2 separate regions of the Homo sapiens genome follow, and region 2 is reported to be linked to region 1. Evidence: microRNA targets listed by miRTarBase, many of them from high-throughput screens and not tested one by one. Region 1 holds a microRNA gene; the other region holds the end of a gene's coding sequence.
What was found. Region 1 holds the annotated microRNA hsa-miR-4722-5p (GGCAGGAGGGCUGUGCCAGGUUG, at 1,567-1,589, opposite strand). A microRNA usually pairs through its seed, bases 2 to 8, with sites in the 3' UTR of a target mRNA and lowers its output. Matches are read on the target gene's strand: a 7mer-m8 pairs with bases 2 to 8, a 7mer-A1 pairs with bases 2 to 7 and ends in A, and an 8mer does both.

Region 1 (3,264 bases):
TCCCTGCCACCCATGGCCAGCTGCATGGGGCGGGAGGGGGACCTGTCCTTACCCCACACTGCACGGCATTGAGGTGCCAAGGTGGGCACACAGCCAGCTCTGCTCCCGCAGGGAGGACCCCCAAGCCTGCATTGAGGAGCAGCTGTGCTACAGCTGCCGCGTGAACATGAAGGACTTGGTGAGTACGTGCCCACCTGTCCTGGGCCGGGCTTGGGGACGCGGGAAGGCCGTCACCTCGTGGGTGGCTTGAGGGGGTGCTGGCAGGTTTCTTGGCCCCTCGACACCGGCCTCTGTTGCAGCCCTCACTGGACCCCCTGCCGCCGTACATCCTGGCTGAGGCCCAGCTCCGCACACAGAGGTACTGGGGCCCACACTGCCGTGGCGCGTGGGTAAGGGGCCTCGGGGCTGGTGCCCACTGCAGCTTTCTCTCTAGGGCCTGGGGCTTGCAGGAGATCCGGGACTGTCTGATTGAGGACAGTGACGACGAGGCGGGCCAGAGCTGAGCGTGAGGACGTGCTTGCCGGGACAGCAGGCAGTGGCCACCTGGTACACCACACTGGAGCCGGAAGGCAAGGACGGGGGACTGGCCTCTGATTGTCCATTTGTATAAATAAAACATTTTTTAATTAAAAAAAAAACTCTACAGTACACGTGGGGGACGGCAGCGCCACGCAGGCCGTGGGGACGCAGTGTCCTTCTCTGACAGCAGCATCAGGGCTCAGGCAGGCCGGGAGGATGCATCACAGCTGGCGGCCTTGGACGGGGCAGTGGCTCCCCCGGCCTGAGGAGTGCCGCCCCTTGTGGCCACGCTGCCCAGCAGGCCGGCTCCTTCCCTCTCGGGCGCCAGCAGCAGCTCCTACTCCTTCTCACGAGTCCACTTGATCATGGTCTCCGGTGAGCGGTAGAGGAAGATGAGCTTGGCGTACAACTCCTCCTCCAGCTCCAGCTCCCGAGTCTCCCGCACCAGGAAGATGTCCTGGCAGAGCTTGAGGATGCGGTCCACGCACGGCAGCTCCTCGAACATAATGGAGTGCGAGATCTCGCTGAAGAATCCGCGCACGAACTTGCCGATGACCAGCACGATGGACACGTACAGCCCCATGATGCTGCGGGGGAAGCTGGTGAGTCCTGGGGCCGCCCGGAGCCCCCCGAGCTGCGGGGTGCCCCCCCAGCCACTCACTCACCCGTAGCCAGCCAGGAAGCCGAGGCTCGGTGGGCTGACCTTGTCACTGAAAATGACCATGGGCAGCAGGTTGCAGTCGGTCCGGCACTCCTGCAGCTCGATGACCCACCATTCGAGGAAGCCGGTGGCCCCCGCACCCTGCTCCCTCCGCAGCTGGATACGCACGCCGAGGTAGTCGGCCTCCTCATCTGGGATGGAGGGAGAAGATCGTTGAGGCCGCAGGTCACCCCTCTCTAGCCTCCCCCAACCCCCACGCCCATACTCACTGGGCTGCAGCTGCTTCACAGGGTTGGCTTCGGGCCCGTTGGGGGCACGGATGTACTTGGGGAAGAGATTAGGGATGACCCTGCAGGGAGGTGCTGGCAGGTCAGGCCTGGCCCAGCCAACCTGGCACAGCCCTCCTGCCCACCACCCGGGCCCTTCACTCACACAGACTGGTCCGAGGTGCCCTCGAGCAGGCTGGCCAGCTGCCGCCGTGCAGTGCTGTTGGGGGCCAGGGCCAGCATGTGCTTCTCGTTGGCATACTCCACAGTGCCTCCCTTCGCCAGGTCCCTGGGGGTGGGAACACAGCGTGACCCACTGTAGTGGGTCCACCCACCCAGGCACTGCCCCAAGTCCAGGACGAACCTCTGGAAGTTCCAGGTGAAGCGCAGGGTGATGTCGGCCGTGCCGTTGTAGAGCTCCCGCTTCATCTGGGCACGGCTGGGGGGACTGATGCGCCACAGCGCCCCGGAGCTGCCCTCAATCTGCGCCGTGACGATGTCCTCAGGGCTGTACTGGCTGATGAACTGCATGGCCAGCTGGGTACAAGTGACACCCTCAGTGACTGCAGCCGCCTCCCCACACCAGCTTTCACAGGGCAGAGGCCACTTACCGGCTGGGGGTCAAACTGCCGGGACAGCTCCTCATAGGCCTGGGCCGTGAAGGGGATGATGGACGGCTGCTGGGCGCTCATGGTGAACAGCGGCTGGGGCAGGCACGGGGACACGGGGCCACGAAGATGAGCGTGGAGGAGCGGCTGGGGGTGGTGCACCACCTTGGCCAGAACCCCCAGGGGATGGGAATGGACAGGCGGACCCACACATGCTCACCTCATAGCCGCCCAGCTTCAGGGTGACGGTGACATCGATGGGCTGGTTGACAACCCCAACCACGGAGCGCACCAGCGACATGAAGAGCAGTGGGAACCAGATGATGGCGATGAGGAAGAGGATGATGAGGCCACCCATGCCGTACTTGACGATCTTCTTCTTCTTCTGCCCTTTGGGCTGCGGGTATTTCTGGAGGGGAACGACACAGGTCATACGCTCAGCTCTGCCCTTCCTGCGGGTCACACAACCGCATTCTCCAGCTCACCCAGCAGCCCAGAAAAGCCCCAGCCTGACCTCAGTATGGCACAGCGGTAGTAATGGTGGGCAGACACAGGCCAGTGGAGTAGAACTAAGAGTCCAGTTGGAACCCTCATGTTCAGGGGTCGTTGATCTTAGACAAGGGAGCTGTGACCGTTCAGTGGGAACGGACAACCTTTTTCAACACGGTGCAGGCACCGCCCCAGGCAGGAGAATGAAACGCAACTCCTGCCTCATACCATGTGCCAAAATTTACCTCAAAGTGGATCAAAGAGCGAAACTTCAGAGCTAAAACTATAGAACTTTTAGAAGAAAACGGGCAAATCTTCATGAACCTGGATTTGGCGAAGGAAACAAAGTAAACCAGATATTACCAAAATAAATACTTTGTGCTTCCAAAGACACCAAGAAAATTTAAGAGACAGTCCATAGAATTGGAGAAATTTTCTGCAAATTTTAATTGATAAGGTTCTAGCAACCAGAGAATACAGAGAATTCTTCCAATTCAGTCATTTCTAGCCAATGTATCTGCAGAAAAACAGAAAAAACTCTAATAAAAAACAACCCAACTGCTGGGTGTGGCGGCTCACACTTGTCATCCCAGCACTTTGAGGTCAGGAGTTTGAGACGAACCTGGCCAAAAATACAAAAGACTAGCCAGGCCTGGTGGTGCACACCTGTAGTCCCAGCTACTCGGGAGGCTGAGGTGGGAGAATCGCTTGAACCTGGGAG
Region 2 (3,132 bases), not on the chromosome of region 1:
TTTCCCAAAGGAAACCTTTCCTGGGGATTAGCCTGCTTTTGTGGGACCAACAGATTAGCCACAAGATTAGAAACTACGGTTGAAGAGTCACGCAGCGGGAGGCTACAGGATTCTGACCCTCCCCAAACTGCTCCTGGCGATAACATCACCATCGTAAAGCCTAAGATCAGCACTTGGTGGGTCACCTGGCACCACCCAGGCTCATCTGATGTTGTGGCACCCAGGAACTGACTCAGTGCGAAAACAGCTTCGACTCCCTGTGATTTCATCTCTGACCTGACCAATGGGTACTTCTGACTCACTGGCTGCCCCCCACCCACCAGCTTATCTTTAAAAACTCCAAACCCCAGATGCTCAGGGAGACCGAGTAATAATAAAACTCCAGTCTCCCACACAGCTAGCTCTGCGTGAATTACCTTTTCTCTGTTGCAAATGCCCTTTCTTGATAAATTGGCTGTCTAGGTAACAGGGAAGGTGAACCCACTGGGCAGTTACACTTTTATCCACCCTTCCAGCTGGATCACGCGCCCTCTTCAATGACATGACACGCAGCTAGAGTGTATGAGCTTGCTGCCGGCACCTTCCGTCCTGGATCGCATAGCAAGGCCTCAATGGACAGCCAGGTGCCTGGTCCGGTCCCACTTTTTTTTCTGTCCTGTTCTCGTTTCCTCTTTGCTTGGCCAAAGAGGGTTGGGCCAGGGTCCTGAGTGCAAAGGCTTGGCTTGGTGAATTAAAGTGGCAGTAGCCGTGTGGCAGAGAAAATTTGTAGATGGGTGAAATCCTGGGCCTACACAGTGACAAAGTGTATATAGACAGCCAGCCTAGTTGGTGGATGTGACAACCCCAGACTCTTCTAGATTTGTGGATCCGTGCACCTGCCAGACCTGTCTCTGAGCCATCTGGGGAGGCTGGGTAAGATTTCCCCCGTCAGGGCCTGAGCCTCATCTCCAAGCTGCTGGCTTCAGCCCAGCTGCCACCAGCGCTGTCTCTGTCTTGCGCTTTCCAGAGAGAGACTGACTCATTTTGAGCTCCAGGCCTACCAGGCAGCCCAACCGCGGCAGTAACTGCCTCTCACACTGAGGATGGCTCATGCTCTGGTCCAGCCATGGCTTGAACACCTCCCAACAAGAACAAAGCCAGACTCATTCTCCCTAGCATCTTCTTCCTTGCTCAAAGATCCCACACCCCGTTAGAAGCTGGAACTGGGTCCTTGTCACCTTCCTCACCTCCCCAGTCGTAGTCTGGTTAATCCTTACATCTCACCACGGTCACCGTGGCTAGATGTGACCTCCGCGATGCTTCAGGCACGTACCAGGGCAGCCTGGGCAGGGCTGGTCACTGTGATCTCATGAGGTGTGAACTTGACCCCGGCCTTCTTTCCTGGGATGCCGGCTAAGGACACAAGTTCAGTGTTTGCCCTGGCTTGTAGCCCAGCGGGGGCTCCGTCATCCCCTGGGGAATGCCTCGGCCTGCAAGACCGCATACCGCATTGGAACAGGGAAACCACCTACTTCAGCACCTCCCTCAGCAAGGTGGCAGGTCCCAACAAGCCTTGCACCACGAGGAAGTGGCAGTGGCATTCGGGATATGGCTCCCTGGCCAGCTTGTGAAGTTCAAGGGGCTCGTTACTTCTTACAGCTCACAGTCCCTCCCGGGTCCAGCACACCTGAGGGCTGACCTCCCTCTTGATTAGTGCAGGGGAAAAGCACTTTAAAAAGCTGTGTCATGCGTAACTTGCACATCTTCTGATTCTGACCTGAAACTGCATCCCAGGTCGGCACAGACGCAACCCAGTCTCCTCCCACCTCCGAGAGTGCAGTGTCCTGAATGGAGAACCCCAGCACCCAGAAGCATCCACTGAAGGACGTAAGTAGGACAAGGCCAACTGTGGCTGTTCCAGCAGAGGGACTGTGGGTGATGTTTCCCTTCTCTGATTTCTAAAATATCTGCAAACTTGTTTCATTTATAATTGAAAATATAATTTGCATAACAACAGTAAATTCTACACATGAAGGCAAACGTCCGTGGTTGACAGAAATTACACTGGCCAGAATCCCCAGTCCCCATGAGGCTTGTCCAGACGCAGTGAACCAGTCGCAGCTGATAACACACAGACCATTCCCGATCCCAGAGGTGCATTTCAGGATTCATTCTATTTCATCAGGTGACGTTTTAACAGAAACAAAACCGCAGGCAGCGGGTGGGGGGAGCTGGAGGTTGGAATCACACCAACATTATAGCATTATTACTCTAAAAAAAATTACTTTTTTGGCTGGGTGCTGTGGCTCACACCTATAATTGGGGGGCCAAGGCAGGTGGATTACCTGAGGTCGGGAATTCGAGACCAGCCTGACCAACATGGAGAAACCCCGTCTCTACTAAAAATACAAAATTAGCTGGGCGTGGTGGCACATGTCTGTAATCCCAGCTACTCGGGAGGCTGAGGCAGGAGAATCGCTTGAACCCAGGAGGTGGAGGTTGTGCCATTGCACTCCAGCCTGGGCAACAAGAGCAAAACTCCGTCTCAAAAAAAAAAATTTTTTTTTAAGCGACACAGTCTTGCACTGTGGCCGAGGCTGGAGTGCAGTGGCTCAATCACGGCTCACTGTAACCTTGGACTCAGCTCAAGCAGTCCTCCTGCTTCAGCCTCCCGAGTAGTTGGGACTACAGGTGCGTGCCACCACACTTGGCTAATTTTTATGTTTTTTTGGTAGAGACGGGGTCTTCCTGTGTTGCCCAGGCTGGTCTCGAACTCCTGGGCTGAAGCAATCTTCCTGCCTTGGCCTCCCAGAGGGTTGGAATTGCAGATGTGAGGTAATGTCCAGTTCCTTGCCTTATTTATAAAATGTAATTTATTTTTTGAACTTTTTCCTCTTCAGAGCCTTCCATTCGCCTTCCTGTGTAGCCAGGCTGTTAAAAAGCTGCTTTACTTTCCGCTTTCTTTCCGCATCCCTAAAAGAAACAAAAGGCAAATGCCCATTTTTGGATTAGTTCTTGGAGAGCATCTTGCCCTCTCTCTCCCACATCAGAACCACATTAGCCACCGTGGCCACGTTCAGTTCAAACAGGGGGAAGTGAACCTGCCTGGCTCCAACCCCCAGCCAGAGCCAAGGCTGTGGGATGCCAGGTGCC

Region 2: miRTarBase lists NOP14 as a target of hsa-miR-4722-5p. Seed matches in the 3' UTR shown: 7mer-m8 at 2,446-2,452.

Annotation. Positions count from the first base shown.
Region 1 is chr16:88,714,749-88,718,012 of GRCh38, forward strand. MIR4722 (microRNA 4722) reads right to left here and starts at 1,589; the gene lies at 1,530-1,589. CTU2 (cytosolic thiouridylase subunit 2) reads left to right here. Exons shown (of 15, transcript NM_001012759.3): 13 at 112-178; 14 at 300-358; 15 at 434-648. The coding sequence ends at 503. It overlaps PIEZO1 (piezo type mechanosensitive ion channel component 1 (Er blood group)), which reads right to left. Exons shown (of 51, transcript NM_001142864.4): 45 at 2,275-2,463; 46 at 2,058-2,150; 47 at 1,811-1,983; 48 at 1,613-1,735; 49 at 1,450-1,529; 50 at 1,185-1,371; 51 at 590-1,106. The coding sequence ends at 857.
Region 2 is chr4:2,935,979-2,939,110 of GRCh38, forward strand. NOP14 (NOP14 nucleolar protein) reads right to left here. Exons shown (of 18, transcript NM_001291978.2): 18 at 1,958-2,952. The coding sequence ends at 2,853. It overlaps NOP14-AS1 (NOP14 antisense RNA 1), which reads left to right. Exons shown (of 4, transcript NR_015453.2): 1 at 1-2,164; 2 at 2,715-2,814. Among named protein-coding and RNA genes, the nearest start is that of NOP14-AS1, 2.0 kb to the left of the region's middle. RefSeq lists enhancers at 1-884, 687-926, 1,397-1,816.